2 separate regions of the Homo sapiens genome follow, and region 2 is linked to region 1. Evidence: fine-mapped expression QTL. A gene starts in region 1. The other region holds a variant in brackets. All regions are shown on one strand. Distances are from middle to middle.

Region 1 (16,513 bases):
CTTCCCAAATTCTTTCACACAGAATACCTCAAACTTCTCAATAGGCATTTTATCACATTTAACAAATGTAGACACTAAAAACATAAACTTCAAATAAGTCTACTAGTAGTCATCCCACTTAAGAGTTTTTCCTAAGCAACTAAAGCTCTTACCAATAATGGACTTTCGCACAGTACATCCAACATTGAAAAAAGTATCTATGTGGTTTCTGTAAGGTTATATCACATAAAATTCAATTTCTGCCTTAGTGCAAAATCATCTCATCCCTCTGGTCCTTTATTTAAAGAAAATATCCTACTTCTAACAAAGGTCAAAAATTGAGATTTTTTTTTTCCCAAGTTGGTACAAGAATTAGGGAAATCATTTGAAAATGAAAATCACCACCGCCAGCACTGGCAGTGTTCTAAGCACTTTACAAGTAGTAACTCATTCAATCCTCCTAACAACCTATGAGGTTGATATTTTATTCCATTTATAGATTGAGAAACTGAAGCACAGAGAAGTAATGTGCTCAGTCACACAGCCAGTAGGTAGAAGAGAATTTGACCTCAAGTAGTCTCTGTCCAGAGCCCATGCTTTTAACTCTCTAGCTGTACCACCTAAACTTAAGAACCACCATTTAATAGGCATCCAAATTATCTTACACACAAAAAAAATTTCAGATTTTTTCATTTTGTGACAAATTAGATAAAATATCATGTAAATATTTTAGGCTGCATCTAAAATCATAAGAAAAAAGGATGGCTGGTAAAACCAAATAAATGAGATTTATATTAAAGAGCAAACTCCCTTTAAGTGAACTTGGGAATTTTATTATTACATGACCAATAAACTTAAAGAATATATATATTGATATGGAAATGTTTCACAAACACTTTACAAAAACTTAACCACAAATGCCCTCAGTAACATACCTTCAAAACACATTCTAAGTAGTCGAGAGTATACCAACATTGATATCCAAGTCTATATGAAAACTCACCTAAACAGAACACAACAAATAAATCACAAAGAAAAAGCCTCTGGACAATCAAAATAGGTATTCCAATGTCCAAGTATTGGTACACATTTACTTTTCTCCAGAGACGACCTCACACACTAAGTAACGGCCTACTGATTTTTCCCCTATGCAGAATCACAAACCTGAATATGATTTCCACACTTCTAAAAAAAAATTAGAAAAGGAAAGATGATGGGGGACACTAATCAGTTACAAGCACATCCAAAAGCAAAGCAAAAAAAAAAAGTATTTAAATAATTTCAAAATGCGAACAAATATTATTTAGAATTTAGCTCAAAAGCCCTATATGCAAAACAAGACTGCATCCCCAGGTCATCCAAAGTAGTTTAATTTTATTCTGCATCCCATTTAAGACAGAAAAGAACTGTGTAATTAACTTTAGTATTATCTTAATCCAAAGCAGTTAAAGTGATTTTATAATTTCATACTTAAAAGAATATGCCCACAATTGCCCTGCAAGCTCAACTAATCAATTATAAAATAATTCATTTGAAAATTCCAAATAGCAAATGTTTTATTTCACTGTTTTTGAGCTCAAGAGCACTTTTGAGTATGAAAGTTACCTGAAAGGAGGGAGGTGGAGAAGGGAACATAAAATTAGAAAAGTCTAAGAAAACAGAGGATAGCTAGGCGAGTGTCTATAAACAATATGCTCAAAACATCCCCCACAAAGCAAAGTGTGGACAGAGGGTGCCACATCAGCAGTAGTCTGTATTCGTCCTGCTTCTAAATCATTTGTTAATTACATGAATTATTCATTTCGGTGATCGTTTGTTGATATGAAGCAGTACCAACTCTCAACTGCAAAAAGTGATAGGGTCCTCCTGATTTGCTCTACAAAAATCAAACTTGGGTTTACTCTTACAGAACACGTTCTGCCTTATAGAGACACAGGGTGTTTTGTTTTTTGTAAGCTATTCTTAAGTTGCTTTTAATTTTTAAAGGATTGAGGGAGTTAGTTTAATGCCTAGCCCACACCGAACTTTGTTATCAAAAGAAATTGTTACACCACTTAACAAAACTCCTTTTCAACCCGGACTGCCACACATTCTGCCTTCTCTAACTTCAAACAAAACTATAAAGCACATAGTAAATAACATATAAGGCCTTGTATTTTTCTCTCCTCCGGCAAGGAAGTCTAACTCCAAACAGGAAACTGCTCCTCAAAGGATCCAACACTGAAGTCCAAACCCAGTCCTCGGGAGCACACTGAATGCTTAGGTGCCAACACACTTGCCTAGGTAGAACCCGAGTAAAACAAATACTCAAGCTTTCCTGTCCTTGAGGCACCCCTTGCGAGTTTCAGCAGGAAAAAAAAAAAGTTTTTGAACAAATTTATCTCTCTCCTTAAACGTATTCAAAGCCTCGCAGAAAATAAAGAAGTTGAAAGTGCTACTTTATCAAGTTTTTCGATCGCCCTCCCCCATCCCACGAGGAGGGGGAGGGAAGCAAGGGGATGAGGAAGGGAAGGAAGGTCAGGTCTGATTTTAGCTGGGCAAGGGGTTAGCAGAGGTGGCCAGGCGCCCCCGCCCCCCATCCCGCACCTTTCTGGTGAACAGGAAAAGAGGCGGAGAAGGGAGAGCGAGGGAAAGCACCCGCGAGCTCTCCCACCAGTTTCTCCGTGAGAAGAGCAAGGTGGAAGGCAGGGCAAGAAGGGGCGGTGGGGAGAATGGAGAGGGTGGGGTGCTGCCGCTCAGGGGCTGACCGCAGTCGCCTCCCCAGAAGGCCGAGAAAGGGCACAGCCTCCCCGGGTCTGGAAGGTCCGGACGGGCGGCGGGAAGCGCCCGAGTCTCTTACCCATGCTGGGGGCTCCCGCGGGGAGAAGCCGACGTCCGCTCCTCCTCCTCCTCCTCCAGTGGTGGCTCGCGCGGCCGCTCCCGCGGCTGGAGGCGGGACCCGCGCTCCGCGCTAGCCCCTCCTGAGCTCAGGCGGGGCGAAGAGTCGCCTCCATCCGCCCGCGGCGCTCTCCTACCAGTCTCTTCAGCGCGGCCCTCGAGGCAGAGGCAAAGGCGGCGACAGCTCCTCACCCCTGGCCTCCCCAGGAGCCACGGCGGCGGGAGGGCCCTACCCCGCCCGCCCGACCGCGGTTTTCCCACCCTGGCCGCTCCCGCAGTGGGGAGGGACCCACCGGTTTGCCCAGACCCTCGGCTCCAACCCCGAGCGCCCGCCTAGCCTCGGAGCCCGCCCCTCGCCTCTTCCTTAGCACTCGCAGTTAGAAAAGGCGACACCGTAGACTAAGGTGGGGACCCAGACAGAGGCCGAGAAGGTGCGGGGAGCTGGGACCGGGAGGAGGCAAATCTCGCGAGAACGCCCTCGTTCTCCCCGCCCCACCCCGCCCCGTCGCGTTCGGGCTCTCTCCCGGTCCCCACGGCTGCTGCCAGGTGCGGTGACGTCACGGCCGGGGGTCGCGCGCCGACCGCGTCCAGGTGCAGCGAGCGGATGAGGAAGCGGTGCAGAGGAGCTTGGGCTCGCTCTCCCCCCGGAGGCTCGGAACAGCTTGGGCGGGCGTTTGGTCTGGTTTGTCGCCTCAGATGGATCAAAAGGTTTCTGCTGATAGGCAAAGTTGCCCCACTTTCCGCGGCGGCGACGCGGAGTTACTTTCTGCAGCGAAGCAGCCTCGAGGACCTTAAAGGGAAAAGGCGGACAGAAGGAGGGCGAGCGCACTTGATTTCGACCTTTAAGGGAGGCCCAGATGCTGCCAGGCCCCTCAGTTTACCTTGCGAAGTTACTTACGGATCAGCAGCATTTGGTCTTCGTCGGGTGAGGGAGAAACCTAGGCATCAAATAAATTCTGTTTCACAGATTCCTTTAGTCTCTTGTCAGCTGAATGCAACTTTATAATTTGCTTTTTTTCTTTTTAAAGTATAATTTGAGTTGTTACTTGATCGAGAGAAAAATAGGCATCATGATTTGAAATACTGCCAGGCATTTTTTCTAGCGTCAATGTGAAGGAGGGCATAGGATTACTATAGTCAGTCAAACATGAGCTTGGTAGTTACGAAGAAGTATAATTATTTCAGCAAGCTTTTTTTCCCCCTTCTGTTTAAGTAGACCCAATTCCAGGGCAGATGTGTGTGTGAGCGTTTGTTGAACGCCAACTATTGTGCCTAGTGCTTTTTCAAGAAATTTTGTAATTCTCAGTCATCCAGCACTGAAACTGACTTGCCCTTTGGATCCAGGCAGACATGGGTCCTTGAAACTCAGCACAGCCATTTACTTTTTGTGGGACCTTGGATAAATTAACCTGTCTGAACTTCAATTTCTTGAGTATGTTCAAACAAATCTTGCAATGCAGAGCACAGTGGCCCATAGTAGTAACCTTGGACGTATCCATTACCACTATTTCCTATAGGCCTGCTTTTGCCATCTTTTAATTCTTCTAATGCTTCTCAAAAGGTTACATGTGGTAATTTTATAACAAGAATGATCAAACTCACAAACAGCAGCCAAAAAGGATAAAAGAAAAAAGTTGAATATACTCACCTAAACAAGATTACATTGACATCATGGAACATGTGCCTTTTTTAGGTAACAAATATGTGTTCAGCATTATGTTCGTTGTCCCCTACCAAGCAAAAAAATAAAAAGCTAAAGTACAGCGCTAATCCTCAGAGATTTTGCATTCTTCTAGGGGGGTGAGATACGAACACAAAGTTAATTAACAGTATGAGGTAGTGAGGGTCAAATGCTTGAGAATTTAAAGGAAAATAAATTACTGTGGGCAAAGCAAGCTGTAAAGAGAAGGTATGAGTTGAACGAAAGCTTGGGGAAGGCAATAATTCAGTCTGGAGGAGTCCTAGAACTGAGGAATGGAAGTGGATATGCAAACAGAGTATTTCTGAGCCTTTAAGAAATGTGTGTGGCTCAAGCAGCCCATAAGGAAGGCCATTTACGATTTGGAAGAATGAGGCTGGTGATGGGCTAAGAAGGATTCATGAAAGGAGACAAAAATATAAGCTATTGGAAGCACATACATAGGTAGTAAATTCAAGGCCCAGAGCCCTTAAGTTTCTAGAGACTAAATTTCTAGGTCTCTAGAATCCTTAATATTTAAAGAAGAAAGGCCAATGAATAGAATGGAAAAGAAGTTAAGTAAAACAGAAGGGGGAATAAAGACTATCAGATTTGATAATAAGGGCATCTTTGAAAATATAATTTCAGAATATATATAATAGAATATATAATATATAACTACATATTCAGAATATATATATAATAGAAAATTCAGATTAAAGGTTTTATCAATTGAATGATAAGGAAGTGGAGGCCACAGATAAGGTAGATATTTTCTGAGAAGTCAGGTCACATGATCTGACAACAAGATAAAACATTTACAATCATTTATGTCCTAGAAATTCCAGGATCTTCACACTTGTAATCCCAGCAATTTGGGAGGCCAAGGGAGGAGGAGCACTTGAACCCAGGAGTTTGAGACCAGCCTGGGCAACATAGCAAGACTCCATCTCTACAAAAAAAAAAAAAAAAAAAATACAAAAATTAGCCCAGGTATGGTGGCACAGGCCTGCGGTCTCAACTACTTGGGAGGCGGAAGTGAGAGGATCACCTGAGTCCAGGGCCGTCGAGGCTGCAGTGAACTGTGATCCTGCCACTGCACTCCACCCAGCCTGGATGACAGAGTGAGACCCTGTCTCAAAAAAAAAAAAAAAAAAAATTCTAGCATCAGTTATTGCCATAATTAATGTACGTATTTTACAAGTTTAAAAGTTAAATTCACTTTGCAAATTCAGAGGCATTATCCATTGAGGTAATGATGAGATGACAAATCATAGAAATTGGAAGGATCAGGGAATAGAACCCCTAAGAATGGTTGAGAAAACTGAAGTAAATCTAAGAAGTAATCGCAATCCCAAATTTAATGTTGTTTTCCAAAGACAAAGCCAAAGGAAATTCTAACAGAAGAATGAAATCTAGCAATTTACTTTTAAACTTACAAAATGGTATGTAAAAATACCTTCTAAACTTTTGAATGCTATGCAAATATTAGTTATTAATTATTCCTTTAAGCTCTTTTCATCCTTTAAATCTTACCTTCTCAGCTATAAGAGGCCTTCAAGGTATGGCAGTATGTTTTATACGTTTTTATATGGCTACCACCGTCTGCAGCTCAAAACATTGCGTTCCCTGGCAATAATTATTAGTTGAATGAGAGAAAATATGGTGAGAAGATAATTTCTACTTACCACATATATTAAATTTAAATTCCTTTAATCTAAAAACAAATTATCTTTTACTTTTCCCTTTATTTTATTGTTACCTTTATACTGGATTAGGTTTGTTTCTGTCCATCTGTCCTTATTCTTCTTTGTATTCCAGTACAAATGGACTAACACCACTCTAATCATTCACTTTCTTTTTTTCTGCCAAGTACTAAACATGTTGATCTGATATCAAGGAGAGCACTACAGTTCTGTGTGAATGACACAATTTCAGACCAACGTAATTCATGCTAAACTGCCATGATTTCTTCCTGAAGTTTTCTTAGGAATTTATCTGAAGATATCTATATTTTAAAAAAGCATCTGCCTTCTTTCCTTTTGGTAAAAACTATTATAACCAAGAAGATTATGCTAAAGAAAAATAAGTGTTAACTAAATTATATTATTTTTAAAGCACTCATTTAGCTAAAATCTTGTGACTAATTATTTTTTCTTTATTCTCATTCAAAAGTACTAGGTTTCCTGGGAAGTTTTCTTACTGCTACCTTGTTTTGGCCTGGCTAATTTACTGTAAACTTAAGCCCAAATTACATCAATGTATAATCTGCATTTTAAAAATCATTCTTTAGAAAACAATTGTAGGAAATAATAACCTCAATCAGAATGCCTATACTGTGAGATCATTGAAGCTGAAAAATCCCCCTGCTCAAACTGGTGGCCCATTCAGCTTGCAACAAAATACTGTTCCTCGACTAGCAACTTGGGGGATGTCCTCAGGCCTATGACCACTCTAAGCACTTTTCATTATTGCATACTAAGAAAGAGTTAATTAAAAACATGATGACCCATCTAAATGAATCACCACTTGCCAACTGCAAGGACCTTTTTAATGGTGTTATTTGCACTTTATTCAGATGCTAGTGTCATAAAGCTGGCATTTGATAGGCAAGTCATAGGAGACTCATAGGCCTTTAAAGGGAATATCTTTCAAGAAGCATTACTCCTCCCAAATATTAAAGCTAGCTCCTTTTGAAGGGTCACATATTTTAAGTAATCTCAAATAACAAATACATTTGCATTTTCAAATATCAGGCAGTTAAATTATACACATGGTATTATGTAAATAATTTCCAGTCACAAGTACACATTTATTCAACTCAACAGATGTTTTTCTGATCACCCATTACAAATGAGCAGCTTCTGGATGATAAATATAGAGATAGAAATAAAGTCCTTGCCCTTAAAAGAGAAAGGATTGGGGAGTCTCTCGAGGGTACATTGGAATTCTCAGTAAGGACAAGGAAGGGTAGTCAGGTAGCCAGGACAATAGGCAGGTATACAATCCAAAGCCCAGGATGGGCGTGGTAGTTCACGCCTGTAATCCCAATACTTTGGGAGGCCAAGGCGGGCAGATCACCTGAGGTCAGGAGTTCAAGACCAGCCTGGTCAACATGGCGAAACCCTATCTCTACTAAAAATACAAAAATTAGCCAGGCATGGTGGTGGGTGCCTGTAATCCCAGCTACTTGGGAGGCTGAGGCAGGAGAATCACTTGAACCCGGGAAGCAGAGGTTGCAGTGAGCCAAGATCATGCCACTGCACTCCAGCCTGGGTGGCAGAGTAAGACTCCATCTCAAAAAAAAAAAAAAAAAAGGCTAGGATGTCTTTGAGGGGCCAGGCTCTGAGACCACACTCAAATATGGAGAGCACTGTGTGCCAGGGAAGTAATTTGACGTCTTGTTCTAGAAGTAAGAGGCAATTAATGAAGTATTTTAAGTAGGCAACTGATTTGCTTTTCCAGCTACATCCACGGTCATAAAAAAAATGCACACAAGTCACAAAAAATTAGGTACAAAAAAATTTGGTTAAATAAGCATTGATTAAGCACCCACTACCCTCAAATAATTAGTAAATATGTTTTTTTACTAATACAATAAATGTTTAAACTAATATAAGATACAAGGGATTTCATATGCTGGACACTGTGAAAGATTCATTGCAGCAAACACAAACTCTGCCTTCAAGGAATGTGATTTCCAGCTAAGAAGGCAAAGATATACCTAACTATTTCAACTTGCACTTATTTAAATAAAATGTACCTTATTGAGGAGAACCTGCATTTCGAATCAACATGGCACAGACAAATAAACTGGGGAAATTTTCAATTTAATAATTAATTTGTAGTATTCTTATTTGAATCTCTGCAAAATTTTATGCTATAGAAATTTTTAATTTTTGTGGGTACATAGTAGGTGTATAGATTTATGGGGTACATGAGATATTTTTATACAGCCATACAATGCATAATAATCACATCAGGGTAAATGGGATATCCATCACCTCAAGCATTTATCCATTCTTTGTGTTGCAAACAATTCAATTATATTATTTTAGCTATCTTAAGATGTGTAATAAATTATTGTTGACTGTGCTCTCCCTGTTATTCTATTTAATCATACTCATTCTATCTAACTATATTTTTGCACCCATTAACCATTCCCATTCTCCCCACCCCTGCCCAGCCTCTTCTAACCATCATTCTACACTCTGTGAGTTCAATTGTTTTAAATTTTTTACCTCCCACAAATAAGTGAGAACATGCAAAGTTTGTCTTTCTGTTCCTGGCTTAATTCACTTAACATATGACTTCCAGTTCCATTCATGTTTTTGCAGATGACAGGATTCCATTCTTTTCTATGAATGAATAGTACTCCATTGTGTATATGTACCACATTTTCTTTATCCATTCATCTGTTGATGGACACTTAGGTTGATTCCAAATATTGGCTATTGTGAGTAGTGCTGCAATAAACATGAGAGGACAGATATCTCTTTGATATAAGATTTCCTTTCTTTTGGGTATACGCTTAGCAGTAGAATTGCTGGATCATATTATGGTGGTTCTATTTTTAGTTTTATGAGGAACCTCCAAAACTGTTCTCCATAGTGGCTATACTAATTTACATTCCCACCAACAGTGTACAAAGGTTCTCTTTTCTCCACATTCTCACCAGCATTTGTTATTACTTGTCTTTTAGATAAAAGCCATTTTAACTGGGGAGAGATGATATCTCACTGTAGTTTTCATTTGTATTTCTCTGATGATCAATGATGTTGAGCATATTTTCATATACCTGTTTGCCATTTTTTTTTTTTTTTGAGACGGGGTTTTGCTCTTGTTGCCCAGGCTGGAGTGCAATGGCATAATCTTGGCTCACCACAACCTCCGCCTCCCAGGTTCAACCAATTTTCCTGCCTCAGCCTCCCAAGTAGCTGGGATTACAGGCATGCGCCACCATGCCCAGCTAATTTTTGTATTTTTAGTAGAAACAGGGTTTCTTCACATTGGTCAGGCTGGTCTCGAAATCCCAACCTCAGGTGATCCGCCTGCCTTGGCCTCCCAAAGTGCTGGGGTTGCAGGCGTGAGCCACTGCACCTGGCCTCCTGTTTGCCATTTTTATATCTCCTTTTGAGAAATGTCTATTCAGATCTTTTGCCCATTTTTAATCAAATTATTAAATTTCTCCTATAGAGTTATTTAAGCTCTTTATGTACTGTAGTTATTTATCCCTTGTCAGGCAGATAGTTTGCAAATATTTTCTCCCATTCTGTAGGTTGCCTCTTCACTTCGTTGATTGTTTCCTTTGCTGTGCAGACACTCTTTAACATGATGTAATCCCATTTGCCACTTTTGCTTTGGTTTCCTGTGCTTGTGAGGGTACTAATCAAGAAATCTTTGCCCAGTCCAATGTCCTAAAGAGTTTCCCCCAATATTTTCTTTTAGTAGTTTCATAGGTTCAGGTCTTAGAAATTTAAATCTTTACTCCATTTTGATTTGATTTTTGTGTATCACAACAGATGGGATCTAGTTTCATTCTTCTACATATGGGTATCCAGTTTTCCCAGCACCATTTATTGAAGAAACCATTCTTTCCCCAAAGTATGTTCTTGGCACCTTTGTTGAAAATGAGTTCACTGTAGATGTATGGATTAATTTCTATGTTCTCTATTCTGTTCCACTGGTCTATGTGTCTGTTTTTATGCCAGTACCCTGCTGTTTTGGTTAGCACAGCTCTGTAGTATAATTTGAAGTTGCATAACGTAATGCCTCCAGTTTCGTTCTTTTTTGCTCAGGATAGCTTTGGATATTCTGGGTCTTTTGTGGTTCCATATTAATTTTATGATTGTTTTCTCCATTTCTGTGAAGAATGTCATTGGTGTTTTGATAGGAACTGCATTAAATTTGTACATTACTTTGGGTGGTGTGGACATTTTAACAATATTGATTCTTCCAATCCATGAACATGGAATATCTTTCTATTTGTGTGTGTGTGTGTGTGTTTGTGTGTGTATGTGTGTGTCTTCTTCAGTTTCTTTCATCAGTATTTTATGGTTTTGATTGTAGAGAACTTCCACTTCTTTGGTTAATTCCCAAATATATTATTTTATATGTAGTTATTATAAATGGGATTACTTTCTTGATTTCTTTTTTAGATTGTTTGCTGTTGGCATATAGAAATGCTACTGATTTTTGTATGTTGATTTTGTATCCTGCAACTTTACTGAATTTGATTATCAGTTCTAATAGTTTTTTGGTGGCGTCTTTAGGTTTTTCCAAATATAAAATTATATCTTCTGCATGCAAAGATAATTTGACTTCTTCCTTTCCAATTCGGGTGCCCTTTATTCCCTTCTCTTGCCTGATTGCTGTAGATAGAACTTCCAGCACCATGTTGAACAACAGTTGTGAATGTGGACATCTTTTTCTTGTTCCAGATCTTACAGGAAAGGCCATTTTTTCCTCTCATCAGTTTTTCCCCATTCAGTATGATACTAGCTGTGAGTCTGTCATACATGGCTTTTATGGTGTTGAGGTATGTTCCTTCTATACCCAGTTTTTTGGGGGGTTTTTATCATAATGTTGAATTTTATCAAATGGTTTTTAGGCATCAGTTAAAATTATCATATAGTTTTTGTCCTTCATTCTGCTTATATGATGAATCACATTGATTTATTTACTTATGTTGAACCATCTTTGCATATCTGGGATAAATCCCACATGGTCATGATGAATGCTGTTTTTAATGTGCTGTTGGATTCTGTTTGCTAGTATTTTATTGAGGATTTTCACATGAATATTCATCAGAAATATTGACCTGTAGTTTTCTTTTCTTGATGTGTCCTTGTCTGGTTTTGGTATCAGGATAGTATTGGTTTTATAGAATAAGTTTGGAAGTATTCCCTCCTTCTCTATTTTTTGGAATAGTTTGAGAAGCATTGGTATTCGTTCTTCTTTAAATATTTGGTGAAATTCACCAGTGAGGACATTGGATCTTGGACTTTCTTGGCTGGGAGATTCTTTATTATGGCTTCAATCTTGTTACTTGTTATTGCCCTATTCAGGTTTTGAATTTCATAAGCTTCAATCTTAGTAGGTTGTAGGTGTCTAGAAATTTGCCCAAGTCTTCTAGGTTTTCCAATTTATTGGCATATAGTTGCCCATGGTAGCCCCTAATGATCCTTTGAATTTCTGCAGTAACAGTTGTAATGTATCCTTTTTCATCTCTGAATTTATTTATCAGGGTCTTGTCTCTTTTTTCTTAGTCTGGCTAAGAGTTTCTCAATTTATCTTTTTAGAAAACAACTTTTTTCATTTTTTTTAAATTTTAATTTCATTTATCTCCGCTCTGATCTTCATTGTTTCTTTTCTTCACTAATTTTGGGTTTGGTTTGCTCTTGCTTTTCTAGTTTATAAAAATGCATTGTTAGATCATTTATTTGATTTTTTCTACTTTTTTGATGTAGGCGCTTATTGGTAAAAATGTTCCTTTTAGTACTGCTTTTGCTGTATCCCATAGATTTTGATATGTCTTGTTTCCATTTTCATTTGTTTCAAGACAGTTTTTAATTTGCTTCTTAGAGTTTTTACTGACCCACTGGTTATTTAGGAGCATATTGTTTAATTTCCACGTGATTGTATAGTTTCCAAAGTTCCTTTTGTTATTGATTTCTAGTTTTGCTCCACTGTGGTCAGAAAAGATACTTGATATGATTTCAATTTTTTGAATTTTTTAAGACTTGTTTTGTGGCTTAACATATGGTCTGTTTTTGAGAATAAGCCATGTGCTAAAGAGAAGAATGTGTATTCTTCAGCTGTTGGATAAAATATTCTGTAACTATCTATTAGATTCATTTGGCCTATAGTCCAGATTAAGTTCAACGTTTCTTTGTTGATTTTCTGTCTGGATGATCTCACCAATGCTGAAAGTTGGGTGTTGAAATCTCCAGCTATTATTGTATTGGGGTCTATCTCTCTTTAGCTCTAATATTATTTGCTTTCTATATCTGCATGCTGCAGTGTTGAGTGCATATATATATACAATTGTTATATCCTCTTGCTGAATTCACCTTTTTTATCATTATATCATGACCATCTTTTTCTCTTTTTGTGGACTTTGTCTTGAAATCTATTTTGTCTAGTATAAGTATAGCTTTTCCTGCTCTTTTTTGGCTCCCTTGGGATGGAATATCTTTTTCCATCCCTTTATTTTCAGTCTATGTGTGTCTTTATACATGAATTATGTTTCTTGTAGATATAGTTCACTGGGTCTTGTTTTTTTATATCCATTTAGCCACTATCTATGTCTTTTGATTAGAGAGTTTAGTACATTTACATTCAATGTTATTATTGATAAGTAAGGACTTATTCCTGGCCCTAGCCATACATTATTTCCAAAATAATAAATGGAAATTTTATTTCATATCCCAGTCTAACTTCCTAAACTGCACAGATTACAATAAGGGCTATATCCCATCTGGTACTGGAGCTTTTATGCTACGTGTTCTGACATTATCTTGGTGCCCAAAATTAAATGCCTGCCAAAGCAAAAGAGTCTCATACACCGAGATGTTTCTCTCTGCTTATTCCTTATTCACATTTTGTTCTTAGGTTTCCAGGCCAGGTCTCAACACTCCCATAACTGCATCACATTCTCTTTTTTTTTTTTTTTTTTTAGAGAGACGGAGTCTCGCTCCTTCTCCCAGGCCGGACTGCAGTGGCGCTATCTCGGCTCACTGCAAGCTCCGCCTCCCGGGTTCATGCCATTCTCCTGCCTCAGCCTCCCGAGTAGCTGGGATTACAGGCGCCCGCCACCGCGCCCGGCTAATTTTTTGTATTTTTAGTAGAGACGGGGTTTCACCGTGTTAGCCAAGATGGTCTGGATCTCCTGACCTCGTGATCCGTGCGCCTCGGCCTCCCAAAGTGCTGGGATTACAGGGGTGAGCCACCGCGCCCGGCCACCTGCATCACATTCTATATGCGGTTCATAAGCAAGTCTCAACCTCCCTGTCTCCCCATACCTCCCCAGCCATCATCTGCCTTGTCTCACATTTATTTAAATATCAAGTAAATTAGAGTGCACTTCAACCTCCTTACCCCCGAGGCCTATACCAATACTTCCACTTCATAACCAGGGAACTGATGCATCCTAAATAGTCCCCTGCACACTCTGCCAACCTTCTTCTGTGTGGAATTGCTTCTTTGAAATGGTCCATGCCCTCTTTTTGCCCCTCAATAGTTATATCTCTGATTTGGACTTACAATGTTACACTTGGGCTACATTTTTCCCTTTCCATTTCCTAGGCTGTAATCTTCATCCTTTTTTCACTTTGTCCTTTCTTATCCTTTTTCTCTATCTTACACTATGTCTTTCCTTACTCTTTAACACCATCCTTAGATTATCAATCCAGTTTAACTGGTTTTGTAAACGCTACAAAGGTAACCTCTTTGATTACCTCCCTCACTGCCAAATATATTTTCACAGAATAATGTTGGGCCTTACTGAGACCATGGTAAGGTGACAAAGCTTTCTCACAGTACACAAATCTCAATGTACTCCTTAAGACAAATTAGTGAAGGAGGTAATACTATTTCTAGTTTGACAATGTTAGCAATGACAACAATGTCAATAACAGCTAACACCATCTGACCATTTTAAGTCTCAAGCATGGACCTAGACACTTCATACACCTCATCTGACATGACCTTCATTACAATGCTACGAGTGGTAGTATTATCACCCTATTTAAAGAGCAGGAAGCTGAGACTAGTTAATTAACTTGCCTAAGGTCACATAACCATTAAGAAGCAGAGCCTGTGAGAATTCAGGGCTAATTCCATAGCTGAGGCTCCAGCCTATCTTAGGTCAATTCACTCCTTGAGCTGTGATTTCTTCCTTTGTTTAAAAGGAAGGAGGAGGAGGAGGAGAGAGAGAAAGAGGTCAGTGGAGGAGCTGAAGGAATCCTTCTTCAGTGGTTTGTATACGGATCAAGTCATATGTTAAGTGAATTAAGCATCAAGTGTCTAGTCTGTGTCAGGCCAGAATCAGTGACCTGTGGCTTGTAATTCCATCTACTTGGGAGGCTGAGGTGGGAGGATTGCTTGAGCCCAGGAATTCAAAGCTGCAAGGAACTAGGATAGTGCCACAGCACTCCAGCCTGGGTGACAGAGCCTTGCTCAATATCTTTTAAAAAAAAAAAAAAAAAGTGGAATTACTAAATCAAAAGCCAAAAACATTTACATTTTGATTATATTTTGCCAAATTGCCTTCCAAAAATGTTTCACCAGTTACTGTTTTCAATAGTCTATACTGTCATCAAAACTGGATATTAACAATCTTTTGAGTTTAGCCCATAGGATACAAAAAAATTATAGCTCGTTGTTTCAATTTAGATTACGGAGGTTGAGAATCTTTACATATGTATACTATTTTCATATGTTTGCCTAAAAATTGCCAGCCTGCCAGCACATATCCTTGGCTCATTTGTCTTTTTTGTTATAATTTTCTCGGTGATTTCTAAGAACTCTTTATTCTAGGGATATTAGTTATTTTTCCAGGTACCCATCTGCTCTTAGATCCATTCCTGTCTTTCCCCTGGGTTTGTGTGGGACGAGAGTTGGGGTGTGGAGCACTGGCCCTTGCAGACTCCTTTCCCAGTCAGTTGGCTTCCAGTTGAATCTGGACAAAGAGAGGCACTGGTGAGAGACTGGAAGGTATGGAAGGCACAAGGAGAGCTCCCTCAAAGATGCCTACTTCCCAGTCCCTGAAACCTGTGAACACATCATATTACATAGCAAAGGAGAATTGAGTTACAGATGGAATTATGTTTGCAAATCAGCTGACCTTAAAATGAGATTACCCTAGGTTTTCCAGGTAGTACCGATGTAATCACAAGGGAACTTAAAAGGTGATAGCATGAGAAGGATTTGACTGGCCATTGCTGCCTTTGAAAATAGAGGAAAGAGGAGCTAGGAAAGGTAGCCTCAAGAAACTGGAAAAGCCAAGGAAAATAGATTCTTCCCTAAAGCCTTGGAAAGAAATGCAGTTCTGACATCTTGTTTTTATCCCAGTGAGAGGCATTTCAGATTTCTGATCTCTAGAACTGTAAAAAAATAAATCTGTGTTGCTCCAAGTCAGCTAGTATGTAGTAATTTGTTATAGCAGCAATTAGGAAACTAATACAGAAGTCAAGAGGGAGGAAAGAGCTGGGACGTTTGCACTCCACCCCATCCTCTACTTCAAGCAGCATCTCTAACATCCACTGCATATTCCCTATGGCTTCTGCTGCCATCAGAGAGGGCTGTCTGGTTTTGGCTCCAGCAGGGCTCTGGGCACTGGGAACACTACATCCTCCTTTTTTCCTTCCAGTTTAGGGGCAAAGAGGCTACCTGCTGTTGATAACTTCTAAAGGGCTTATCAACCCCTTTTTTGCTTCTTTTCTCTTCCATCACCTCTGAGAACAATTCCTTTATTAGATTATCTTTGTTTCAGGAGTTTAGAGTGATCTCTCATTTCCTGGTTACACCCTGCCTGATATAGTCTGTCAAAAGTTTTGCTAGTATGTTTTCCCAATTTGATGTTTTTTTTAATGTTTTATGGTGTTTTTATGTCATTTAGAAAGTTTAAACGTGCATGTAATTTAAACTTACCAATTTTTCTGGTTTTTTTTTTGAGTTTTCATTAAAGTTGAAAAGCCTTTTCTCCTCCAAAATTAAAAAATAACCTATTATTTTATCAAAATTAAAACTTTTTACTGATAATGTATAATCACACAAGTATAAGTCTTAAGTGTATAGCTTGCTGAATTTTCACTAACTGTAAAACTTCTAGTCATATTGTAATTTTATTTTTTACATTTACAGTTGTAACATGTATGGATTTTATTTGAGTGTGCATGGAGTAAGATTGGAATTCAGGTTTGTTTTTGTTTTCCCTTCAATGACTAGCTATTCATAATGTTTGAGAATAGTAATCCA
Region 2 (16,513 bases), 160 kb before region 1:
GAGAAAGGTCGGGTTACCCACAAAGGGAAGCCCATTAGACTAACAGCGGATCTCTCAGCAGAAACTCTACAAGCCAGAAGAGAGTGAGGGCCAATATTCAACATTCTTAAAGAAAAGAATTTTCAACCCAGAATTTCACATCCAGCCAAACTAAGCTTCATAAGTGAAGGAGAAATAAAATCCTTTACAGACAAGCAAATGCTGAGAGATTTTGTCACCACCAGGCCTGCCTTACAAGAGCTCCTGAAGGAAGCACTAAACATGGAAAGGAACAACCAGTACCAGCCACTGCAAAAACATGCCAAATTGTAAAGACCATCGAGACTAGGAAGAAACTGCATCAACTAATGAACAAAATAACCAGCTAACATCATAATGACAGGATCAAATTCACACATAACAATATTAACCTTAAATGTAAATGTGCTAAATACTCCAATTAAAAGACACAGACCAGCAAACTGGATAAAGAGTCAAGACCAATCAGTGTGCTGTATTCAGGAGACCCATCTCACGTGCAGAGACACACATAGGCTCAAAATAAAGGGATGGAGGAAGATCTACCAAGCAAATGGAAAACAAAAAAAAGCAGGGGTTGCAATGCTAGTCTCTGATAAAACAGACTTTAAACCAACAAAGATCAGAAGAGGCAAAGAAGGCCGTTACATAATGGTAAAGGGATCAATTCAACAAGAACAGCTAACTATCCTAAATATATATGCGCCCAATACAGGAGCACCCAGATTCATAAAGCAAGTCCTTAGAGACCTACAAGGAGACTTAGACTCCCACACAATAATAATGGGAGACTTTAACACCCCACTTTCAACATTAGACAGATCAATGAGACAGAAAGTTAACAAGGATATCCAGGAATTGAACTCAGTTCTGCACCAAGCAGGCCTAATAGACATCTACAGAACTCTCCACACCAAATCAACAGAATATACATTCTTCTCAGCACCACATTGCACTATTCCAAAATTGACCACATAGTTGGAAGTAAAGCACTCCTCACAAATGTAAAAGAACAGAAATTATAACAAACTGTTCCTCAGACCATGGTGCAATCACATTAGAACTCAGGATTAAGAAACTCACTCAAAACTGCTCAACTACACGGAAGCTGAAAAACCTGCTCCTGAATGTCTACTGGGTCCGTAACGAAATGAAGGCAGAAATAAAGATGTTCTTTGAAACCAATGAGAACAAAGACACAACATACCAGAATCTCTGGGACACATTTAAAGCAGGGAGTAGAGGGAAATTTATAGCACTAAATGCCCACAAGAGAAAGCAGGAAAGATCTAAAATTGACACCCTAACATCACAATTAAAAGAACTAGAGAAGCAAGAGCAAACACATTCAAAAGCTAGCAGAAGGCAAGAAATAACTAAGATCCAAGCAGAACTGAAGGACATAGAGACACAAAAAACCCTTCAAAAAATCAGTGAATCCAGGAGTTGGTTTTTTGAAAAGATCAACAAAATCGATAGACTGCTAGCAAGACTAATAAAGAAGAAAAGAGAGAAGAATCAAATAGACACAATAAAAAATGATAAAGGGGATATCACCACCGATCCCACAGAAATACAAACTACCATCAGAGAATACTATAAACACCTCTATGCAAATAAACTAGAAATTCGAGAAGAAATGGATGAATTCCTGGACACATACACCCTCCCAAGACTAAACCAGGAAGAAGCTGAATCCCTGAATAGATCAATAACAGGCTCTGAAATTGAGGCAATAATTAATAGCCTACCAACCAAAAAAAGTCAAGGACCAGACAGATTCACATCCGAATTCTACTAGAGGTACAAAGAGGAGCTGGCACCATTCCTTCTGAAACTATTCCAATCAATACAAAAAGAGAGAATCCTCCCTAACTCATTTTATGAGGCCAGCAGTATCCTGATACCAAAACCTGGCAGACACAACAAAAAAAGAGAATTTTAGACCAATATCCCTGATGAACATCGATGCAAAAATCCTCAATAAAATACTGGCAAACCAAATCCTGCAGCACATAAAAAAGTTTATCCACCATGATCAAGTGGGCTTCATCCCTGGGATGCAAGGCTGGTTCAACACACACAAATCAATAAATGTAATCCAGAGTATAAACAGAACCAAAGACACAAACCACATGATTATCTCAATAGATGCAGAAAAGACCTTTGACAAATTCAACTGCCCTTCATGCTAAAAACTCTAAATAAATTAGGTATTGATGGGACATATCTCAAAATAATAAGAGCTATTTATGACAAACCCACAGCCAATATCATGCTGAATGGGCAAAAACTGGAAGCATTCCCTTTGAAAACTGGTACGAGACAAGGATGCCCTCTCTCACCACTCCTATTCAACATAGTGTTGGAAGTTCTGGCCAGGGCAATCAGGCAGAAGAAAGAAATAAAGGGTATTCAATTAGGAAAGGAGGAAGTCAAATTGTCCTTGTTTGCAGATGACATGATTTTATATTTAGAAAACCCCATCATCTCAGCCCAAAATCTCCTTAAGCTGATAAGCAACTTCAGCAAAATCTCAGGATACAAAATCAATGTGTAAAAATCACAAGCATTCCTATACACCAATAACAGACAGAGAGCCAAATCATGAGTGAACTCCCATTCACAATTGCTTCAAAGAGAATAAAATACCTAGGAATCCAACTTACAATGGACATGTAGGACCTCTTCAAGGATAACTACAAACCACTGCTCAATGAAATAAAAGAGGACACAAACAAGGAAGAACATTCCATGCTCATGGATAGGAAGAATCAATATCATGAAAATGGCCATACTGCCCAAGGTAATTTATTGATTCGATGCCATCCCCATCAAGCTACCAAGGACTTTCTGCACAGAATTGGAAAAAACTACTTTAAAGTTCATATGGAACTAAAAAAGAGCCCACTTTGCCAAGACAATCCTAAGCAAAAAGAACAAAGCTGGAGGCATCACACTACCTGCCTTCAAACTATACTACAAGGCTACAGTAACCAAAACAGCATGGTACTGGTATCAAAACAGATACATAGACCAATGGAACAGAACAGAGCCCTCAGAAACAATACCACACATCTACAACCATCTGATCTTCGACAAACCTGACAAAAACAAGAAATGGGGAAAGGATTCCCTATTTAATAAATGGTGCTGGGAAAACTGGCTGGCCATATATAGAAAGCTGAAACTGGATCCTTTCCTTACACCTTATGCAAAAATTAATTAAAGATGGATTAAAGACTTAAATGTCAGACCTAAAACCATAAAAACCCTAGAAGAAAACCTAGGCAATACCATTCAGGACATAGGCATGGGCAAGGACTTCTTGTCTAAAACAGCAAAAGCAATGGCAACAAAAGCCAAAATTGACAAATGGGATCTAATTAAACTAAAGAGCTTCTGCACAGCAAAAGAAACTACCATCAGAGTGAACAGGCAACCTACAGAATGGGAGAAAATTTTTACAATCTACCTGTCTGACAAAGGGCTAATATCCAGAATCTACAAAGAACTTAAACAAATTTACAAGAAAAAAACAAACAACCCCATCAAAAAGTGGGCAAAGGATATGAACAGACACTTCTCAGAAGACACTTATGCAGCCAACAGACACATGAAAAAACGCTCATCATCACTGGCCATCAGAGAAATGCAAATCAAAACCACAATGAGATACCATCTCACACCAGTTAGAATGGAGATCATTAAAAAGTCAGGAAACAATGGGTGCTGAAGAGGATGTGGAGAAATCGGAACACTTTTGCACTGTTGGTGGGATTGTAAACTAGTTCAACCATTGTGGAAGACTGTGGCGATTCCTCAAAGATCTAGAACTAGAAATACCATTTGACCCAGCCATCCCATTACTGGGTATATATACAAAGGATTATAAATCATGCTGCTATAAAGACACATGCACACTTATGTTTATTGTGGCACTATTCACAATAGCAAAGACTTGGAACCAAGCCAAATGTCCATCAATGATAGACTGGATTAAGAAAATGTGGCACATATACACCATGGAATACTATGCAGCCATAAAAAGGATGAGTTCATGTCCTTTGTAGGGACATGGATGAAGCTGGAAACCATCATTCTGAGCAAACTATCACAAGGACAGAAAACCAAACACTGTATGTTGTCACTCATAGGTGGGAATTGAACAATGAGAACACTTGGACACAGGGTAGGGAACACCACACACCGGGCCTGTCATAGGGTCGGGGGAGGGGATAGCATTAGGAGATATACCTAATGTAAATGATGAGTTAATGGGTGCAGCACACCAACATGGCACATGTATACATATGTAAAAAACCTGCACGTTGTGTACATGTACCGTAGAACTTAAAGTATAATAAAAAAATAAAATAAAATAAAAAAAGAAATCCAAGCCAGGTCAAAACCAAAACCCAAGTATCAAGCAATCCAAGTCAAGTCAAAAACAAAAACCAAAGCGCAGGTACAGGCTGCCATGGGTGATCAGGCCACGCTTCCACTCAAATGGAGTGGGCGAGTTCCGAAGACCAGTCTTACCAAGTTTCAGATGTCCAGACTCCTAGTGCCAGTTCCTTCCCGGTGTTCAGCCACTGCGTTGATCCTCCACGGGGGCCTGCCAGGCACTGCTCTGGTGAGCTGTTCCACTAGGGCAATTGCCTACCCGCGAGCGCTCTCAGGATTCGTGTTGCTCAAGCTGGCTGGAGTCCCCCACAGGGATGTTCCACAGGGCAGACCTAAGCCTCCTAAGGGGCTGCCTCGAAGTCTGTTAATCACCTCGCTTCCCGGTCAGGGAACCAAGAAATGTAGCAGGACAAGCCACAGACAAAACCCCTCAGACACCAAGTTAAAGAAGGAAGGGCTTTATTAGGCCAGGAGCTTCGGCAAGACTCACGTCTCTAAAAACGGAGCTGCCCGAGTGAGCAATTCCTGTCCCTTTTAAGGGCTTACAACTCTAAGGGGGTTTGCGTGAGAGGGTCGTGATTGATTGAGCAAACAGGGGGTACGTGACTGGGGGCTGCATGCACTGGTAATCAGAATGGAACAGAACAGGACAGGGATTTTCACAGTGCTTTTCCATACAATGTCTGGAATCTATAGACAACATAACCAGTTAGGTCAGGGGTCAATCTTTAACCAGGCCCAGGGTGCGGCGCTGGGCTCTCTGCCTGTGGATTTCATTTCTGTCTTTTAGTTTTTACTTCTTCTTTCTTTGGAGGCAGAAATTGGGCATAAGACAATATGAGGGGTAGTCTTCTCCCTTAATAAGCTATTTTGTTTTATTCAGAATTTTATCTTCCAAGAGCAAATATTTCCTGGAGAGCAAGTACCTAATCTATTTTTGTTTGCTTTTGGTATTTCACTTGGGACAGGAAAGAATGTCCAGTACCAGTATTGTTTATCACAAGGACAGGAAAGTATGTTGGTTTGAATTCTCAGCCATCAGGAAAACTTACTTCTAAAGTTCTAAAATTCACCCTCAAATTTTTAATTTATATTTTCTCTTCTTTGTCCACCACCCAGTTTTCCTCAGCTTTGTTGTTTAAGTAGTCGATAACCTCATTTCTTATCTTAGTCACTAAATAGGCTTCAGGCTCAGATTTGATCAGCAGGGGATCTTATTATCTTCCTCTTTCCAGTGTCATTATCTACCATGAAATTAGTTGTCTAGCTAATTTTAAGAGTCTAGTTGTTGGAATGGTGAATTATTCCCAGGGTAAAGTGTTTCCTTTTCACTGTATTCATCAATGCCCCTCAAAACTCCCTGGGCAAGTCACTATTTATTCTGGGGATGATTTTTTAAAACACCCCCCACCTAAAAAGTACTTTCACTCACTGGTAAGCTGAATCCTTTGTCTGAAGCCTTCCTTTACTGCCATAAAGAAGGGAAGGGTGAATACCACAGCATAGGGAAAAGAAGGCTAGAATATAGGAACATTTCAATCTGACAGGAAGCAGAGAGCCTGTGGCTGGCAGAATAATCCCCACCACCACCACTGCCACCTAGATATATACACACATTCTAGTCCCAGGAATCTGTGAATACATTACCTTACACGGCAAAAGGGATTTTGCTAATGTGATTAAGAGCCTTCAGACAGGTGGGCCAAATGTAATCACAAGGGTTTTTAAGAGTGGAGAGGGAGACAGAATCAGGGAGAGGTGATTATGCATGAAGGATGGAGGACTGCAGTTTAAGAAGGGCTCAACCCTCTACAGGTGGCTTTGAAAATGGGGAAAGGGGGCCATGAGCTAAGAATTGCCAGCAGCCTAAAGAAGCTGGAAAAGGCAAGGAAAGGAATTTTCCCCCTAGAGCTTCCTTTGGAAGCCTTAATTTTAGCCCAGTGAGATTCATGTCAGACTTCTGACCTCCAGCATATAAAATAATACATGTCTATTGTTTTTGCACCACTAAATTTGTGTGATAATTACAGCGGCAATAGAAAGCTAATCCAGAGCCCTTCTGGTTCTGAACAAGAGAAGTTCCGACACAGAGAGCAAGAGCAAGGGCCAGGCAAGAGGTGAGATGTCTTCTCACATCAATACTCAACTAGGGAGGAAAGGGGCAGAGGAGAGCAAGAGGCTCAGAAACACGGAGTCTTGTCTCCTCCTGCTCCCTAGAGGATGTATCCACTTCTTGCACACACAGACACCACACTAAGAACAAAGGCAGATCCCTGAGTGAGGAGAAACAGCCCAAGGGAATTTTATGTTGATTGCTACTTATTTTGTATATGCAGTGATTTATAATTTAAACCAGATGACAGCTGGGCATGGTGGCTCATGCCTGTAATCCCAGCACTTTGGGAAGCCAATGCGGGCAGACCACTTGAGGTCAGGAGTTTTTGAGACCAGTCTGGCCAACATTGCAAAACCATGTCTCTACTAAAAATACAAAAATTAGCAGGGCATGGTGGCACATGCCTATAGTCTAGCTACTTGGGAGGCTGAGGCACAAGAAACACTTGAGCCGGGAGGCAGACGTAGTGAGCTGAGATCATGCCACTGCACTCCAGCCTGGGCAACAGAGTGAGACTCCATCTCATACACGTACAAAAAAAATAATCAATTAATTAATAAGCCAGATGAGAATGTAGCCTTTGAATGGCAATTTTTTTCTTGCCTCAGTAAGAACACAGGTTCAGATCAAGATAAACAAACATAAAGGCATTTTTGCATTACACATACATTCACAAATTCAATAGACTAAAACGAATATACATTATTTTATTTCATTCTCTACTTCTCCCTCTCTCTCCATGGAACTGGTGATAATCTTGGTGAGACTAAGGAAACGGTCCCTGAATACTTTTATGTATACTATGTTGTTTTTCTCATACTCCAGGATTTTTATCACTATTAAGAATCATAATCACTAGTTTTGTCACTTGTTCAAAATACTGTCTAAGCCCTGGGTCAAGACTTACTGATATCCATGAAAGGTTTTGCTTTTCCCTAAAGCATACTGCAGATGGCTGGCTATTTTGTCAGTGGAAAGATCTGTGTGATGTTGTCTTGCTCTGTCCTCCTATATAGCATGTTTCACTTCTGAAGTCTTTCAGGTGACCACGTTCCTTCTGGGGTAGGACTATTCTCTGCTTCTGTGACCCTACAGTCACATCATCACCACAATATGGACATTTTAACCCCATTTTGGAGAGAAAAGTCATTTCCTGCTTAGAATTTGGGCAGAAAATGGATTCACTTTTTCAGGCATGGTCGTGGCACCATAGACTCTCTCCACTGACCACTGGCTCTGGACTGTACTGGCAGACTCCAACTCTATATGAATTATACTAGACTTCACATAGGAAAAAGACAGAAGTGGCAAAACCAGAGATGCCCTACCAGAAACTCCTTAAGAAGCCTGGAGCACAAAGCTCACTACAAAACTATTATATGAGCTGGTTACATAAGCAACCATAAATGGGATTTGCTTTCTCTTTGGCCTGGTTGTGGTAGGAGCACATTGCAGGACAAAATGGAGGAACGGGAGGTGCCACCAGAGAATCAAGGACAGGAAGTGGCAAATAACACATGTGAGAAAAGGTTCAGGACTCACTGCAGCAACCTGGGGTCAAAGGAGCCCTCAAGGCGTCAACATCCAACAGAAATGACAAACAAGAGCAAGATGGTTTTGTTGCTGCTGTCTGACTTGTTCTCCCAGAACTCAGGGCCTCCTTTCTCCCTCTTCCCTGAGTAAACGGCAAGAAGGAAAGGGTTTAAATTCTGGCAAAACAAAGTTTTTATGTCTCTTTAGATAAGGAAAGGGATAAGACTTGAGTGATTTGCCAAGTTCACACAGCTACTCATTTTTAGAGCCAGTTTTCAGAGCGAGATCAGTTCGATTCCAAGGCCCCAACTCTTTTTACCCTATCATGTGGCACTTAGCTTGGGGAAGTAATCAGGCTAGGGAAGTAGGGTTGGTTGTGTCCCAGTTCTGGGTGAAGGTTGGAGCCCTCTCTGATTTTATTTGCAGCTGCTACCTGTTTATGGTTTCAAGACACATATAAGCTGAGCTTTATTTGACTGCCATCTAGTGGTCATTTAATTTTGTTTTTTTCCTTTTTTCTTTTTTTTTGAAAGACAGGGCCTCATTTTCTTGCCCAGGCTGGAGTGCAGTGGCGCGATCTGCAGCCTCAACCTCCTGGGCTCAAGCGATCCTCCCGCCTCAGCCTCCCAAGTAGCTGAGACTATAGATGCACACCAACACACCCAGTTAGTTTTTGTTTTTGTTTTGTTTTTAGTAGAAACAAGGTCTCCTTATATTGCCCAGACTGGGCTCTAAGCTCAAGCAATCCTCCCACCTCAGCCTCCCAAAGTACTGAGATTTCAGGCATGAGCCACCGTGCCTGGCCCATTTAATTTCTTTATGGAAGCTACGTAAGGTTGTTTATTGTGTTTTTGCTGAAAAGCCATGAAAACCATTTAAGTTTGCAAAGATGTACACTAAGAAATGAAGAACGTTTCCCAAAATCTTGTGTGACCACATCACAGAGAAATCTAAAAACTATGAGATCCCTGAAAATAGACTTTACATTTAGTCTCTTACTGGTGGAAAAATGTTGACAGACTTAATATAAAGGATCACAAAGAGTGAAAGAAGTAAGACTAGACTAGAAGAAATTAATATTCCCCAGGCAGGCTCCTTCTTTCCTATATATTATCTATGTAGAGAGGCAATAAAGCTTATGAGCAAAAGCACAGGCTTCAAAACTCGGTTTCTTGGGCTGAGTTCAGCTCCAGGCCTTATTAGCTCAGTGGCCTTGGCCAAGTTGCTTAACCTTCCTTAGCCTCTTTCCCGTGTGTGGAGTATAATACCTCCTAGCACGCAGGATTGTTGAGATGATTAGATAGGATAGACAGGTAAATTAGATAGCAATTACTTGGAATAGCACTTGGTATGTGGTAAGCACAATATAAACATTAGCTATGTTTGACGCGATGCCTACTTTTAAAGGTAAGTTTACTATAAAATGTAGGGTAAACTGACCATCTAAAGTCCAGTATATAAAATTTGTTAAATACATTTTAAGAGCCTAATGCAGTCCCTGGAAGAATGTCTGTTTTATAGCAATCGGCATGATAGTGGTTAGTCTTGAGGAGATATTATACTTGAATATTTGAGGAAGGAAGAAAAGGTAGGAGACGGTAAAGACAAGGGGTAGAGAGAATACCTCCCCTTTTGTCACTTATTCATCCACTAAACATTTACTGATTGTCTACTACATGCTAAAGACCATACTAGGTCATTTTAGGTCAGTGGTTCTCAAAGTGTGGTCCACAAGGTCAAAACAACTTTCATGATAATACGAAGATGCTAGTTGCTTTTCTCATTGTGTTGAGATTTGCACTGCTAGTGTAAACGCAGTGGTGACGGTGACTAGAACTGCTAGGCACGCATCAAGACAGTGGTACCATTTTGTTACTGTGTTCTTCACCACCATACCCAGTACAGGAAACCCCTTCCTTTTATCAAAGTGAACATTTTATTTTTCTCTTATAATTTCATATCATGCATTGAGATTGATAAATTTCCTGATATGAAATCTCTCCCTGTGAGATTTGGTTTATGATGATCAGGTTTAAAGTTATGCTGGATTCATAAAATAAATTGGGTGGCTTTCCATCTTTTTCTACAGTTTGAGTAGCTTAAAGACCAATTAAAACACAGCCATCATCTGGCCTTGCTGTCTTTCTCAGTTGTAGAGCCTTAAATACGTTTCAAATTCACTTACGGTGTGTTTAGTCAATTAAAAATTTCAACTTCTTCTTTGAGTCAGTATTCATTCTTTAAAGTTCCATAACTTAACAGATGTCTTGGTGTTACATATCATGCCATTTTTTTCCTCCTGGGACATAAAGGATTTTAATCAAGGTTTTCTTCTGGACAACTTTTTTTTTGTTATATAAAACACAGGTATCCATAAAGATACTTGTGTCTGATTACTCACGTTTCCATGGTGTCAGTTATTTGATGAATAGCACAGCAAGGAAGAAGAGCTATAAATTGTTAGCCAAAATATTCTCTCATTACATCTGTCTTCCCTAAGAGCATGTCTCCTTCTCCTTGGTTTTCAGACTTCCAATTATTAGGGCTTACAGTTAGTGAGGCTTCTCTTTCAGCTCCACATTCCCCAGCTATCCTTCTGTACAGGATTTGAGCCTACAATGATCAGATGAGCCTTTCAGAGAAATCTGCATCTGGCACAAAGTCTGGGAAAGTTTATATCAGATTTCAGGTTGCTCCCTCCAAAACATTTGGAAGGTATTTTTACTATTATAAATTGTAGCTTCCTTATTTCATCTGAAAAGCAATGTTTTTATCTTAAATCTGCTTTTTAATCTATTAATATCAAATCTTTTTCATTGTACTTACTGTTTTTAATGAGTCTCAAGGGAGGAAAAGACAGTAAAAATGTCATCACTCCGTCACATCGTTTACATTCTGTTCAGTTAATGTTTAGGAATATCTCTAAAAATCCACTCTACCATGAAAAGTTAACATGTGATTTTATTAAAGAATTGTTACTCATTGGGCATGGTGGCTAATGCCTGTAATCCAAGCACTCTGGGAGGCCGAGGGGAGCAGCGCGGATTGCTTTAACTCAGGAGTTCAAGACCAGCCCAGGCAACATGGTGAAACCCAGTATCAAAAACAAAACAAACAAAAAAAAATTAGGTGGGTGTGGTGGCATGCACCTGTAGTCCCAACTACTCAAGAGGCTGATGCAGGAGGATTGCTGGAGCCCAGGAGGCAGAGGTTGTAGTTAGCTGAGGTCGCACCACGGCACTCTAGCCAGGGTAATAGAGAAGGACCCTGACTGGAATAAAAAAAAAAAAAAGTTTCTCAATGCACTTAAAATGTAGTTTTACTTTCAATAACTTTATTCACACACTTTTAAAGGGAACTGAAATGTAGTCAGTAAGAAACACTTGGAACCTGATAGGAAATAATACCATCCAATAGTTGCAAAATAGCCACACCTTTCATGACAGAAAAAAACTATTGACTCTATACAAAAAATACTGATATCTATTTGTGAATTTATTTTCCTTACATGGAAGAGCAGATTCACAAAAATGGTGTCAGTGGTAAAATAAATGCAACAGGATTCAGAAAAAAAAATTTTAACACCCAGACCCAGTCTCTCTTGCATCTTGAGAATACAGCCTAATAAATCCAGGTGAGTTAAACTGCTACCTGCTTTTATTTCCTAGAACTGGGCTAAATTTGCAAATTGTATTTTCAGACAAAACCATCTGCACTCTTCAAACACAAATTCTATAGTCCAAAACTTTTACCATTATATGCCTCCAAAGTTTTTTGTCTAGTGCTTCTAAAAGCCAGTAAGAACTAGAAATTTTTTAAATAAGATTTTAAAAATCTTATGACACACTAATTTTCCACATTGCTTTATAGTGGTGTCCTATTCCTTCTGTTTCAAATCTTCCAGCACACTACTAGAATCTCTAAAGCTATATGTGATCTATGTTCAGCAAAAGTATGTGGACCTTAATGTTCTCCTGATTTCATCTTGTTTTCTGTTATTTATCAGGACTTTTTCGGTTGTGAGTTCAGAAACCCAACAAGCTTATGAGCAAGTCTGTGCTTATAGAACCAAGCAATAGACAGCTGAGACTCAGCAACAGCTACAATCAGTTTCAAAGTCCTTCCAGATTCTGTTTCCATCTATCTATGCTCTACTAAATTTTGTTTTTCAAATCAGCTTTTTCCAGATGACAGAAAAACAGAACTGTGGAGAGCTCCCATGCTGAGATTAGCTCTTTTTGTTTCCAATTTTAAAAATTTCATTCTTTGATTAACTCAGTAACTCAGTTTGAGCCAAGTACTCTCTCAAGGGATTTCCTGGGTGGGGTGATCAAGGAGGTAGAATCTGTAAGATGGTAGCAGCTCCCCTTTGAACAATATAATACAAATGAAAGGAGCATCTCCCCAAAGAAAAGGATACTATACCGTATTCAGGGGGAAAGGATACACAATGCCTCCTTTTTCTTAACCTTATCCATCTAATTTTTATCATATCCATCACTGTAAAATGCTTTTTAAAAAGGTAAAACAGCAGCCTCCATTTTTTTTT[T/A]AAAAAAAACCTACTCTATGCCAAGCACTCTACAAAGCCATTTAGATAAACTATTTCAAATTCTCCCCATAATCCTGTAAAGTAGAAATTACTGTCTCAGTTTCAGATGAAAAACCAGACTCAGAAAAGTTCAGTAAAAGTCATACGGGTCTAGAATTTTTAATGTTTTTGGTTTACTATTTATTCTTGTATTTGGAAATTGAAGTAATATAATTTTCATCATACTCTGAAATACACAAATGCTAAAGTTAACAAAAAATAACCAATAAAGACTGACACGACTGGCAATAAAATCCTTTAATTTTTCTTTTTGAGAGAGAAGCATGCTTTTAAATACAGCACCTGTAAACAAGTTAGTGAAGTATATACTATTTTGAGATTCCCCCTCTCAATTTTTTTTTTGGAATGTTAGGTTACAACATCAACTGCATTACGTAACAGTTATTGAAAGCAAGTCAGGGTAAAATTTTATAGCCAAAAATATTCATAGCAGCAACTTTTAAAATATGATTTTATTAAATCAAGTCATTGCACTTGGTCATTTTATTGCTACAGCAAAACAAGGCCTTTACATTATAATACTTCTCATTTCTGATTTAACTGATTGTCTCATTCTGCTCATACATTTCAAGTTTAAATGCAAGCATAAAATGTTTATCAACAAATCTAGAGAGCACTTGGATTTTTAATTTTTCTGTGATCACAGTAAGGAGCATAAAAAAGAGTATCTTCTGTTACACAAGGCCTGTTCTCTCTTTACATCTTCAGACTTAAATTCTGTAGAAGGTAACAGCTTTGTATTAAGACAGAAGCTTAGTGGTCACAAACAAAAAATAACACTGAAATACAATTCAGAAATTAATGATACTGTGTGTCTCAAAGAATACCTGAACTATACATTCACTAATAATTTGGCAATGAGATTCCATGCTGTTCAACTTTTGTCTTTTATACTCACACGTAGAAAAAAAATTCATGATTTACCCCAAGGTTATTATTAAATATCATTTTGTGATATGAACTTTAGTAATAGAAATTAATAACATTTCCCATACCAACAGAAAGTAAGTTGCTAGAATAAAGGAATCATTTTTCCCATCAGGCCTGGGTTTGTTTGGTTTTCTTTACTATTTTATCAAGGACAGAAAGGTAAAAGTATTTCAGTTACTTTTCTATTCTGACTGAGGAGGACACAAGCAAAAACTTTAAATACATTTCCATGCTCATAAGCATCTTGATTTCATGTACTATTGAGAAAATGACCAACAAAAACTTTAAGAACAGCCTGAAATCTGCTGGAAACTTCCCTCATCCCATTATTAGGATGACCAGGGATCACTTCAATAGATTTTCAGGTGAGAAAGCTGGAGGATAATTTCTAGGATTACAATATTTTTGTTTTACCTAAGGTTGGTCATTAAAAGAAAGTAAGATTTAATTTATTTAACAAGAAGAAAATAATTCATTTGACTAGTCATTTAAACCTATTCTATTTAACAGAAGAGGGAACAATTTTGTTCAGTAGTGACCTCATTAGAAGAGCCCATTTTGAAGAGTTCTAATGTATATTCTCAATATATAATTAGCATTCCCCCAAACCCCTAATGTAAGTTGTAAATTAAACATTATGTTGTTTACTGGCATTTCTATTTTCTACTTCAGTTCTCTTTATTTGAAACATGACAAAATTTCATTTACATAAGATTTCTATATTATAAGATTAAAATTTAAAGGAAAAATATTGGTTTGGTGGTTTAAAACTAAAAAAAATGGAAGCATGATCATTGGTACTCAAAAATCTGACACTCATTTGCGATATAATAAAGCATAAAACAATTTTTTGCAAATAAAAAATTTCAAATTTTAAAAATTTAAATAAACCCACTTGTGTTTTAGATGTTACCTACAGACAGAACATTTTAAAGCATTCAACTGTTCATAAGTAACTCTGAAGAAACAACTAATTCATCCATTCTGTGAAAATGTATTTTAAATATGTTCAACTATATTTGGTTTTAAATAAGCTGTAATGTTATATTTTATGACATACTAACATTCTTTATAAAGTTTGTACCTAAATAATAGTTCAAAATATCTCCATGAGTTAGTTTGGTCTATTAGGTAAATTATACATCGTAAAACCTGAGTATTTACAAGTTAACTTGTCAAAATAGGAAACCTCACACTGAAGTTCTGAAAAGCTTTGGGTTTTGTTTTCCTATTACCATTATTAAAAGTCAGAAGGAGAAACATGAAGAACTAAGTGACAAGATAATGAGAAATATTTGAGGCTGTAAAATAAGCAGAAAAGTACAGCAACAGGCTGGTGTTTACATATTTTATATGTGCTGTAGTTTCTAGGCACAAGTTAAGGGTTAAATTAACAGTTTTAGATTCTTCAGACCTAACAAATTTAAAATACAGTTCATATTTCCCCAAATGTTTAACAATCCAACATATTTTAACTAAGTTCCTTTTATGACTCCTATAGTGCAAGCAACATAAAATATTCTAAAAGTTGATGAAATTATTTTGATTATTCATTAGTTCTTACTATATGCATGGGTGAGTAATCTGGTTTATATAGCTAGGAAACTCCTATTTCATCACCCAAAATATAAACAGCATTGCAGACAAACAGGCACAACAGTGTAACCTTCGGTAAGAGGATAAAAGTAAAAATATATATATATATATACACACACACACACACACACACACACACACACACACACACACAGAGTTTATATCCCTTATGCATTATGGAAAAAGTAGTGACTATAGTTACTAAAAGGCTAATCTGTCCCTCTCAAATAGTATATCTTAACAGATTACTTGTAAATATATCACCATATTTATAGTATAGATCTCTTTAAAAATAATACAAGTTTCAATAAAAAAACTACTGTGCACATTCTTATTTATATTCAGTAGTATTTTCAAGCAAACAATTTTTTAAAAAGTGTTTGCAATCCCAGCACAGTTAAGAAATAAGGCCTCTTTTTCTTCATATTGGCAAAACAAAATATATATATAAATTCACCCTCACTCTACTTTTCTATAGATATTACACTTCATTTGCTCATATTTATCACAACAACAGAATTCACAATTTTTAAGTAACAAGTCAGCTGAAGTTCATAGCGTTGCTTCTGAATCCCTGGAACATTATGAACACCAGGTCCACACCACTCAAGAAGACAGGACAGCTTTTTTCAGCTTCTCTATTTCCATCTAAAACAAAAAACATAAATTGAGCAAACATAAAATATCCTTAGTTTAGTAGTTTATTTTACTCTATGTCATTAAGATGTGATCATACTTTCAAGCCTTCAGACTTTTTTTCCAGACCTAAAATCCAGTTTCCCATGCTATAATTTGGTTGAATAAAGTTTCAACAGTACAATGCAAGTTCCTAAATGGCAGTTACAATAAGAAAAAAGCAATTATAGCCCTTTCAGCCAGAACAAATGTTAAGTCATGTGAGCATTTAAAATTAAAGCTGTAAAAAAATCAGTCAGTCCTACAAAGAACAAAAGAATCCTTGAAACCAAATTAAGAAATGTACATGTATCTATAATTAAACAAAGGATACATAAACAACAGTAAAAAGAATAGAGACCTGTTTAGTTCCATGTTTTTCACTAATTATACTTAATTATAATTATAATTATTGTTAAATCACTTGACTTGGTTTCAATTTACTTATCTGTAACCAGTATATACTACATTAAATATCTTAAAGCCCAGGAATATATCTAAGATTCAGTCAAGGTGCTTGATATAGTTCCACCTTTAGGCAGAAGGAAATTCATAACTTAAGGAATTTATGAAGAAGGAGATCATTTCATTAAGTTTGCACAATAACTACACAGAGTTATTCAATACTG

Evidence for each region. PIP is the estimated chance that this variant, and not a neighbour inherited with it, causes the effect.
Region 2: its variant is fine-mapped to the expression of CD2AP in lung (TOPMed, PIP 0.92).

What each region holds. Positions count from the first base shown.
Region 1 is chr6:47,464,554-47,481,066 of GRCh38, reverse strand. CD2AP (CD2 associated protein) reads right to left here and starts at 3,278. Exons shown (of 18, transcript NM_012120.3): 1 at 2,819-3,278. The coding sequence starts at 2,822. CD2AP-DT (CD2AP divergent transcript) reads left to right here and starts at 2,995. Exons shown (of 1, transcript NR_187257.1): 1 at 2,995-3,824. RefSeq lists an enhancer at 1,994-2,720 and a silencer at 3,007-3,516.
Region 2 is chr6:47,623,530-47,640,042 of GRCh38, reverse strand. CD2AP (CD2 associated protein) reads right to left here. Exons shown (of 18, transcript NM_012120.3): 18 at 12,780-15,857. The coding sequence ends at 15,816. Among named protein-coding and RNA genes, the nearest start is that of ADGRF4, 67 kb to the left of the region's middle. The variant T/A (reference allele first, on the strand shown) is at 12,624.